Linked DNA regions of Homo sapiens: region 1 is linked to region 2. Evidence: fine-mapped expression QTL. A gene starts in region 2. The other region holds a variant in brackets. All regions are shown on one strand. Distances are between the middles of the regions. Region 1 overlaps FER1L6 (fer-1 like family member 6). Region 2 holds the start of TMEM65 (transmembrane protein 65).

What was found. PIP is the estimated chance that this variant, and not a neighbour inherited with it, causes the effect. A credible set is the group of variants that fine-mapping cannot tell apart.
Region 1: its variant is the best candidate, but not a certain one, in a credible set for the expression of TMEM65 in whole blood (TOPMed, PIP 0.54).

What each region holds. Positions count from the first base shown.
Region 1 is chr8:124,031,103-124,036,479 of GRCh38, reverse strand. It overlaps FER1L6 (fer-1 like family member 6), which reads right to left. Exons shown (of 41, transcript NM_001039112.2): 19 at 1,026-1,203. The region is part of intron 1 of FER1L6-AS1 (FER1L6 antisense RNA 1); the gene reads left to right. Among named protein-coding and RNA genes, the nearest start is that of FER1L6-AS1, 7.0 kb to the left of the region's middle. The variant T/C (reference allele first, on the strand shown) is at 2,324.
Region 2 is chr8:124,369,618-124,374,994 of GRCh38, reverse strand. TMEM65 (transmembrane protein 65) reads left to right here and starts at 2,294. Exons shown (of 7, transcript NM_194291.3): 1 at 2,294-3,141. The coding sequence starts at 2,838. RefSeq lists enhancers at 1,732-1,921, 2,133-2,427 and silencers at 2,152-2,381, 2,502-2,771, 2,902-3,031, 3,082-3,211, 3,222-3,271.

The DNA of each region.
Region 1 (5,377 bases), 340 kb after region 2:
AAAGATGAAGAGTCTTCCCAGGGTTGATTTGAGAAATCAATGACATCTTATGCATAAAGTGTAAGGCACAATGCTTGGCATGTGGTATTATGCATTTTCCAAAGACAATGCTCTTACGCATTTATATGGGGTACAGAAACCATGAGCTGAACCATTGGATATGTATTTCCAGAACCTTGTATTCTCTGACTATTGAGCAACTTCGATTCCACTGGCAGTCTAAGTTCAACCAACCTCAGAGGAGCCTTGGGCCACAGAGAAGACCTGACTCTACAGACAATTCTCCAGTGTTTCCAACATTGGCTCAACCCAAAACTCAACTTCAGCAGAAATGAAGGTAAAACTGCAGGCTGCTTTATCTGAACTCAGCAGCAAGAGATAACATAAATGGAAGTAATTTGGAAGCAGAAAGCAAAATGCAAGTGTAAGGAATATTTATAATAAAACTCAAAAATGTATCAAAACATAAACATGATGGCACTTACAGAAAATAACTACATAGAAAAAGGATTCCATAAAGCATGCTGAATTTTAAAAGCAGCCGAGCCAAGAACCAAGCTGGAGAAATATAAGTGAACCTACTGATACCAGTCTCCACTGGGTTACTACTAGGAAATGTGAATATCTGCTGTTGATATGTCAAAACTCGAATGCCACATAAAAGTAAAATCTGCCTTAATTCCACAGATCATGTAAGCACAAGAACATATTGACATTCTGACATTTTTTGCTTAAAACGCAAACTCAACCTACATAATCTGCCTACAAAGAAACTCAAATTACTTCCTCTCTATTAACAGAGAAACATAAGTGTTTATTCCAGATGTGTTTAATGATTTTACTCTTTTTAGATGGGACAATGAAAGGTAAGGTAGAACACTTAGAAACTGTACTTTACTTAAGAAGACCAATAAGTTGGCCCTAAAATAATGTGCAAAAAACTCATGCATGCTGCCCTCCTTATTATCTTTTCAGAAGCCCACCTGAGACCTCGAATGACCCTCTTTGCCCAGTGGGGACCCTACCTTGGTAGAGCAGGTTAGATGGGGGGTGATTGGTGCCAGCCCCTTTGGAGGACATTTCTGCTTCATAGCCTACTGGCAAGTTGTCCAAAATGGCACTGGCATGCTTGATGGAGCCCAGCCACAGGTACACGTCGACTTTTGCTTGCACAGACCAACCAGCCGGTCGTTTCCCAGGAGGCTGGAGAAAGGTTACAAAAAAGACTGACTTATTAGTAGGAGATAATTATAGGCCTCCCCTTTTGAGAAAAGAGGTCCTTCCTGGAGACACACCTGGAAGTATGTTCAGAGAGCAGTTCTCAAGAGCTCCTCTTAAATCAAAATAAAGACAATGGCCCCAATTGCCTTGATGCACAACTCCATATCTCCAGAGGAAGATCCAGGTCTAGTGGGACCTAAAGCTTAAACCTGCACTGTGATAAGCTCTTCCAAGCCGTGGGTCATTTAAACTTAATAGGTAGTAGGTGTGTTTATTGCCACCATTTGATAAATGGGGAAACACAGGCTCAGAGAGATAAAGTAAGTTGCCTGTGATGGCTCAGTTTTTAAGTGACAGAGACGAAAGTCAAAAATAAAAGAGATGATTCCAAATTTAGACTCTAGACTCTGAACCCCATAGCCTGACTGTCACTCTGAGCTGAAATCTTCTTCCTGGAACTTCCAACTGTCTGGAGTTCCAACCTGACTTTTTACCTCTTTGTTTCATGTAGAAGAATCCTAGTACTTCTTCCATAAGTCAGGACTCTATGACTTAGAAGAATCTACCTGGCCTGCCATGCACTTTCCTCCTGGCTAAACACCTTCACCGCTTCCTCATGCAGTGTGGTCTCAGATTCCCTTACTGCTCTGCTCTCTCTCTTTTGAATGTGCTCAGATTTGTATTTTTATTTATGTTTGCTTTAATTTCTATGTTTATGTCTGTATGAGTGGGGTAGTATTAGTATGCACAGGGAGTGTGTGCATGTCCACATGTATGTGTGTACATACGCCTGTGTGTGCATGTACTTATGTATATGTGTGTATATGCCTGCATAGGGGTGCATGTATTCTCAGAATCTAAAGACAAAATGTAGGCAGTGTGGCTCCTTTATTTCTCAGTCACCAGGATAAGGGTACTCCCTTACCCCTCTAAGGAGTCCCAGGACCCAGTCTTGGCTGTTGCCAGCAAGGCCATCATTCTGAGAGTAACCTATGGCACTTAGCTGCTACCTCTCAAAATGTTGTCAACTCTTCTTCTAAGTTCCTCTTCCTGGTGTTTCTTAGAATTTCCTGTCAGTAATTTTCTTCTTCTTCTTCTTTTT[T/C]TTTTTTAACATCACTTCCTTTCCATTGAGAGTCACAAAATCCTATTATGAAAGGCCACAACTTGCTCTGACAATTTCCAAGGACCCCATGGAGAGTCTCTGAATCCGAAATTGAGCATGGCTGTTTGCCTTTCTATTGTGCTCTGCGGGTTCCACAAATGGATTATGAGCAACTCAGCTTAGCAACTACTGCCAGTGCTGCTAGGCCCTTGCTGAGGGAGTGGGGCCAGAAGACTCAGTCCTGGCCCTCCCTCCAGGGCTCACAAAGAGGCCACTCCACTTGGCCACTTACCTTCACCTACTCAAATGCAAAGACAGAAAGTACTGAGGAAACTGAGAAGTAGCAGCAGTGATTTCCATCCTTCCTTTAGGATTCAAATATTTAGCTGGGCTTTAATGGGCACTTTAGTTGGATCCCAAAAAGAGAGGAAAGCATGTGAACAAAGATTTAGGTAATATGAGCTAATATTTAGCAAGTGCTTACTCTGTGCCAGGAATGATGCTAAGAGCTTTTGGGAAAGAAGTCACAACCAGTAAGCATAAGAGCTAGACAGAGAATGACACAGATGAAGCTGAAGAATCCTGCTCAGTATGTGGAGGAGCTGGGACTGTATTCTTTAAGCAGTAGGATGCCAGTGTTTGTTGAGCTCAAAAAAAAAAATCAAGTAAGTTTATTTTGTTGTTGGTAAAGGCAACCACTCTACAACCTGTAATTTACAAAATTATAAGACAAATCACCCTCAACTTATCACTTCTCTAATAATAATAGCCAAAATGTATTGGGGAATACATTTGTAAAATAAAATTAATACGTATTGAAAGCCTAAGATTATTTTCCTATAATAAAAGCAATCCCTCTGCCATTTGTAGACATCACTAAGACATCAATTCATAAAGAAAGGAATTTTTGTCTGTTGCTTCACTGCCGTGTCCCCAGTGCCTAAAAGAGTTCTTGGCACCCAGGAAGCATGTGGTAAATATAGGTTGAGTGAATATCCTTTATTTACTTTTCTAACAATAATAATATTTAACACATGTTGAGCACTTCTATCATTCTAGGCCCTGGTCTAATGTTTCTCTCTTCACACAGAATGTTCTATTGCCTGCAAGCTATCACCAAATCATAGGTTATCAGGGTTAGAGCCCAGACTCTCAGCCAATGCTCCTCACACACTGCTGTGAGCACATGGATTGCCAGGGCATCTGGTTAAAATGCACACTCAAATTCAACTGGTCTCTGGGAAATTTTGAGAATCTGATTTCTCCTGATGGACGCTAATCCTGCTGGTCTACAGATCTCAGTTTTAAGTATTTGTGCAGCAATGCTCTTAACTTAGTGTGCTACATTGCCCTAAGCAAAGCACATCTGAGATTCTGCAGGGTTTTCTTTTCTTTTTATCCCCCTCCCACCCTGCCCCCATAGAATCACGCTCTGTCACCCAAGCTGGAGTGACGTGGTGCAGTCTCAGCTCACTACAAACTCTGACTCCTGGGCTCAAGCCATCCTCCCACCTCAGCCTCTCAAGTAGCTTGGACCATGAGCAGGCACCACCATGCCCGGATAGTTTTGTATTTATTGATTTTTTGGGAGGTAGAGATGGGGTTTCACCATGTTTCCTAGGGTCATCTCAAACTCCTGGACTAAAGCAATCTGCCCCCCTTTGGCCTCCCAGAGTGCTAGGATTACAGGCAAGAGCCACAGAGCCTGGGCCTGTGTTTCTTTTCTTTTTTTTTGAGACAGTCTTGCTCTGTCACCCAAGCTAGAGTGCAGTGGTGCAATCTCAGCTCACTGCAGCCTCTGCCTCCCGGGTTCAAGTAATTCTCATGCCTCAGCCTCCCAAGTACCTGGGATTGCAGACATATGCCACCACACCCGGCTAATTTTTGGATTTTTAGTAGAGATAGGGTTTCACCATGTTGGCCAGGCTGGTCTTGAGCTCCTGACCTCAGGTGATCCACCCGCCTCGGCCTCCCAAAGTGCTGGGATTATAGGCATGAGCCACCATGCCAGGCTGGCCTTGTGTTTCTTAAAGTAAAACAAAACAATGACAAAAAACATCATTCATTTCTACTGCTACTAAACAATAAATGGGTGTTTAAACTCATGGTTAAAACGAAAGACTCAGCTAATGTCTTGTGAAAGTGTTCCACAAAGACTGTTGCTGCACTCCTAAAGTTAGCAACTTGTACATTTAAAAAAATATATGCAAATTGGAATTGCTGGCAAGATAATGCAGTGTCTCACTTAAGTATCTAAGTTGGATTCATTCAACATTATCGAGCACCTTCCTAGGTGCTTTCAGGAACAGGATCCCATTTTTAATTTCATGTGTACTTTCAGCCTGGTTACATGTCTGCCCCTGCCTTCCCTCAACTGGGGCTCAGAAAACAATACCCCCAAATGAAAGCCTCAGAAGCAAAAGTGTTTCTCTGACCTCCTGCCCTCTTATCTCTCAGTCCCATTCACCCCCAGGTTAGCCATAGAAACTAGAATCTCTCTTCCCTAGTGCAGGTCACAGAAACCAGAACCCCATTTCCCCAAAGCCAGCTATAAAACCTAAAAATATGACTCTAACTTTCCCTCTGCCTTTCTATGTAAAAATTGGCCATAAAGAAATTATCTGACCTATCTTGTGTAACTGTAGCCCATTCCAGAGAGGGTTCTACTCCACATCCAGAAGGAAAGAATGCTACAGAGAGGCCAAGAAGCAGCTAGGCAGACAGGCCTTGCTGTTTCCCCACTCAGTCCACTAGCATTAGATAATACCCTTTTTACTGAATCGTATTTCTACATGTCCATCCATGCTTTGTTGAACCTAAGCATAAAAATGGATGATTTCCCCCTATTTTGGGATCTTCCTTCTAAAGGCTCCCATATATTAATGTGTATATTTAATATATACATTAAATAAATTTGTATGCCTTTTCTCCTATTAATCTACCTTTTGTGAATTGATTTTTCAGCGAAGCTTCAGAGGGCCAAGGGAAAGCTCTCCCTTGGCTCCTACACCTGCTTCCCCACTCTCCTTCCTCTCTCATGTGCCCCTGAAGCTT
Region 2 (5,377 bases):
TGTCTTATCCCTCTCCACCATCCAGTCTTCTCAGCACATAGTGTGGCTACAAGGACCAGACTGGAGAGTAAGTAAGGTGACTCAACAGACTGAAGGGGCCTGGGCTCAACATATGTCTGTTCTGTTACAGAGCTGAGGGGCAAGTGTGTCTGGTTATAATGGTAGCTGGCATTAGTTGGCTTTGTAGCTGGGGGTTTATCTGCTTTTCTTGGGAAGAGATTACATGAGGCCATAATAGCGTTACAATGGGTGTTACCAGTAGGTATGCAATTTAGGGATGACATGGCTGTAAATCTGAAGATAGTATGATCTGTACCTTATTAATACTTAAAAGTCCACTTTGTCTTTCTGCCTCTATCTAAAGCAGCATTTTCATTTGTTCCATCCTTTTTATCTATGTTCAACCCATATCCATTCATTCTATGTGTAACCTTTCTCATAAGTGACTTGCTTCTACATTTTAGTTTCTCTTGTTTTATAATAGAATTAAATATTCTATAGTAATATAGCAAAAGCATTACAGCAAACCCCAATGAGCAAACATGTATCATATCACGTTTATGATGTCCTCCTATTTATTGACCAAAACAAGTCAAATAGCCAAGCCCACAGTCAATGTAGAGGTGGACCACACAACGGAGCGGATAATAGAAGGTGTAGTTCATTGGGGATCACTACTATAACAATCTAATACTAACACATAGTTAGGAGACGGTTGATCCAGGGATCGAACTTTCCACAGTCTGTCTCTGGAGGCTACACACTAAACTACTATTCTGGAGGTGGTTGGGAATGGGTTCTTACTGAAGAACTTTTTTCAAACCTCACTTCCCAGGTCTGGGGCCTGTGATCCACCCCAGTGAATCAGAATATCTTGGGGGTAGGAAATTGTGGGGGGGATGGGGTGGTACTCCCATGAGCCTGAGACTGAAATAGCTCTGCAGAGGATTCCAGTGCACACTAGGGAATGAAGGGGGTTTCAAAGACAAGGAAGATATACTTTATGCACTCAAAAAGCTTTCATTTCCACAGAGAGCATTCTTAATTGTTGTTATTACATCACAGAGGCATCACCTTGGAATTTAAAAAAGAAGCGATTCCTTTCAATGTTTAAGAGACATCAGTGTTTCTCAAGCTTTCGTGTGTGTTATTACTGGAGGGCTTGTTAAAACCCACATGACTGGGTCCAATGTCTACGTTCTGATTCAGGAGGTGTGAAGTGGGGTCCACTATTTCTCACGTCTAAAAAGCTCTGGGACACACTTTGAGAACCAGAGTTAGAGAAGTAGGAGGCTTTAGTGGTAACAATCCTCCATTATTCAGTTTAATATTCTACTTACATGTAGCACATTTACTACCTACAAGTTTCCGGGCTGAGTGCAGCACTGTTTATGATAAGGATGGGATTTAGATCTTGATTACGCTCCAGCAGATTTATTAAGTGGATTTATTCTCTAAGGGTGCCTAAGCGTCATTAGACAGGTTCAGATAAAGCAGAGATCTCCTCCCTTAGAAGAGATTAGGGACAGCTTAATGAAGTAGGAGACCTTTCACCTGGGCCTTGAAAGATGCCTAGGACCTGGATCAGGGGAAATCGTGGACAATCAAATTATTCTTCCCGCTTTAGCACAGAGACAAAAAAATCACAAGCAACCACTAGGAAAGGTCTATGACATTCTTGCCTCTGCCTCTAGCATTAACAATTTGCATGCCAGCTGCTGGAATCTGAACGGGGAGGACTGTTCTCGTGTCAAGGGCTCAGTCTCAGACCCTCCTTGGGCAGGGGTGGAACTGGCTTCGCTTTCTCTTTGGGGCGCCCAGAGCGACTGCATTAGAGCCGGCCTGCTCGGCCGAAGCGGCGGTGGGCGCTGACTTGGCGAAGGGCGCAGCTGGGGCGCTTCGTTCCGGAGCAGAGCGCCGTGATCCCGTCGGGGCTGGGGTGGCAGCGCAGCTCTCCGCCTGTCCAGAGCGGGGCCGCACGCCGGGGCACCTTTCAGAACAAGCTCCAGATGTGGCCCCAGGTTGGGGGCCGGGTGGCAGCTGTACTACCCTGGCGGGCGAGGGGTCCAGAGCTCGTTTTCCCTATTCCGATCTGTAGGTTTAACGCCAGCACAGGGTGGCGCACCCTACCTCCTTCCACCTTCACGCACCAGCGCGGGAGGGGACGCGTGTGCACGCTCCTCCCCTAGGAGGGAGGGCGGCCCGAGAGCCTGCAGACTGCGCCTGCGCAGCCTCGCTCACACACCTCCCCGCCCCCCCGCACCTCCTTCCCCTTTCGCCCCGCCCCGTTCCCACTTCTGCTGCCGCTAGGGGTAGCGGCGGCGGCGGCGGCTGCGGCTCGGGAGCGCGGCTGCTTTGAGGGCTCGGGAACCTTACAGAGTGGGGACGTGGGGAGGCTAGAGGGTGAGAAAGCTGGCGGGAGAGTAGGGCGGCGCTGGAGGAGGGCGGTGCGTGGCTGACTCATCCTCTGGAAGATCAGACTGACAGAGACACACACTAGCCCGCCCCGCCCGCCCGCGCCGCTCCTCCTCAGCCGGGAGGCGCCCGCCCGCACCGACCGCCCGCCCTCTCCGGGCGCTGTCCGGGCCCGGCCGTCTCAGAGAAAGTTTTTCCCATCGGAGGGGCGGGAGCCGCCGCGGGCCTTTTGGAAAGGAAGTGGGGACGGAACAGGAGGCGAGAGCCGCGCGGGCCCGCGGAGTGCATGGTGCCCGGCGCCTCGGCTGCCTGGCAGGAGGACCTCGGGGCGGGGTCGAGCTGAGCCCAGCTCCTTCTCGCCTCAGCCGCGCCAGAAACCGCCTTGCCGGACGGCCGCGGGGGTCCCAGCTCCTCAGCTCGCCATGTCCCGGCTGCTGCCGCTGCTGAGGAGCCGGACCGCGCGCAGCCTGAGGCCGGGCCCGGCCGCCGCCGCCGCGCCCCGCCCGCCGTCCTGGTGCTGCTGCGGGCGGGGGCTGCTGGCGCTCGCGCCCCCCGGCGGCTTGCCGGGCGGCCCCAGGCGGCTGGGCACGCACCCCAAGAAGGAGCCCATGGAGGCGCTGAACACGGCGCAGGGCGCGCGCGACTTCATCTACAGCCTGCACTCCACGGAGAGGAGCTGCCTGCTCAAAGAGCTGCACCGCTTCGAGTCTATTGCCATTGCCCAAGGTAAGGGGGGCAGGTGGGGGGCGAGCCCGGGGGCCCCGACGCCCTCCTCTTCTCGCCAGCCCACCGGGAGCCCGCTGCGGCCCTGGATCTTGGACCCCCGCCGCCGCCCCCCTTCCGCCCCCCTCGCCTGTCTGGCCCCACGCCTGGGACGGCTGGGGGCGGGGAGACTTTCCGCCGCCCGAGTTTCCCCCAGGCAGGTAGGACGGGCGCGGGTCGTGCCAGGCAGCCGAGGCCAGCGCTAGCTACTTCCTCCCCAGCCTCCGAATCCGGAGCTTCGGCCTAAAATGCCAGTTAACGCTGTTGGGATTGAGTTTTGATTTGCCCCGTGCCTCCCCTCCCCAGCCCTCCTGTCCCTTAGCCCTTGCTGCTTTCTTGCGAGCGTGCACCCGTGCAGGTGGCATGCTGTGCCTGCTCCGAGAAAGTGCTGCAAACCCGCCTGGCAGGAAGAAACTTTTTGAACGGTTATCAAATGAAGACGTATGGGTGGGTAGCCAAAAGAAGGGGTGTAGCTTCGAAAGTCAGGGATGCTCATAGCTGCTTGTTTCCACACATGTCTGATTGCGTTAATTTCAGCAGCCAAAGGAAACATTTTCTCCAGAAATGGAAAGACAGATTCAAGTTAAACTCCAGTTTTGGTTTTTCCCAGAGGTTGAAAGAATGAAATAAATAAGGAGGTATATTTTTTGGAAATCTGTGGCTCTGTAGTAAAAGTCAGACTGATGCTCAAAAGTAATTGGGAATGATGAAAGCAAAACGATTTTTAAACTAGCATGTTAAAATAGGATATTTCTAAAAGGAGTCCAGAATGGGGTAGGGCAGAATTTGAGTCTAGGTGAAAAAGCTAAAAGTTCAGAAAATAAAAAGGATGAAAGGAGCAAACGACTAAAATGGATGTCTTAAAATATTTCTGCCACTTAAATACAGTTATGTAAACAAAACACATTGCTTCAGTTTGTATTACATTCTGATGTGTTTGAAAGTTTTAAAAAAGTTTACTCTCCTCTCTAAACTTGGTAGGTACATAAACATCTCATAGATTCCAAAGTGTAGAGCACATTGATTCGGATCATGCCATTTGATTTGCCAGACTTGAAAGTATATCTTTAGCTGATGTGCAGGAATGGAGGAAAGAATTATCTACCTCATGTAAGCAGGACGTTATCTGTACTACTTCAGAAACTTGTTTTAGTTGTGGCTTTTAATCAGATGTTTTCCCCCTCAGTTCAGGAAATTGTGGACCAATTTATAGTGGATGATTGATTCCAGACATTGTTTACCCACAGTGCTTTTACAGGAAAATGTAACGTCCGATCAATTCCGTTATTCAATGTGTAATCATGATGTTATATGCAATCATAATGAAACACTAGCACATTTGTAATCTATGTGTGCACTCAGTATGCAGTTTAAAAATAGTCAATTCTGAAAATATGCTCCTTGGAAAAATAATATAGTCAGTCATGTACTAGAACATTAACTTTTGAATCTTTCTGCACTGACAAGACTATTTGAACACACATTTTACCTTTTCCAAGTAATTTCTTGGAAATTCTGCATTGTCAACAAGTTACAAGATTGGAGGGCCCTATGAATATAGTTTTGTGGCAGTTCTTGAAAAACATGTCCTGCAAGGTGACTGAATAATTTTTTTCTCATACATTATTATTTTTTACATGCCAGCAGTATTGCAGTAGCAATGCTACATTTCCTAATAAAGATAATATTTTTAAATTTAACGTGGTTTTAAATATTCTGAAAAGGACCTAAGCACTTTAGTCAATGGAGATCATTAGCATCAATTAAACTTAGTTATGTTACTAATATGAGAGAGAAATTAGTAATTTAAATTGTCTTCTTTGCTCAGGAGAAACAGTCAAGGATATTTGAAACAATGGTTAGTCAGATGCTTATCTCTCCTCTTTATATGCTAAAGAACATCAAAGTTTAAATCAGCTATTTTTGCTGATGTCGATGACAAAATGATTGTCCTATGAATCAAATGACACAGATGCTGCTGCTTTGTTAGTGTATGTAGTCTTGGTGTTCACTTACTGTTTTCAGTATCAATACATATAGTTATGGAGATAACTAGAATCATCACTTAGGAAATTACCTTATTCATTAATCATTAAGGTAAAAGGGATTTTATTATGTTGGGAATGCGTACAGCTCATTCCATTGCTGAAATCAACAATTTTTTTCCAGCCAGATAAATGAAAAACTCCCATGTTTTCTT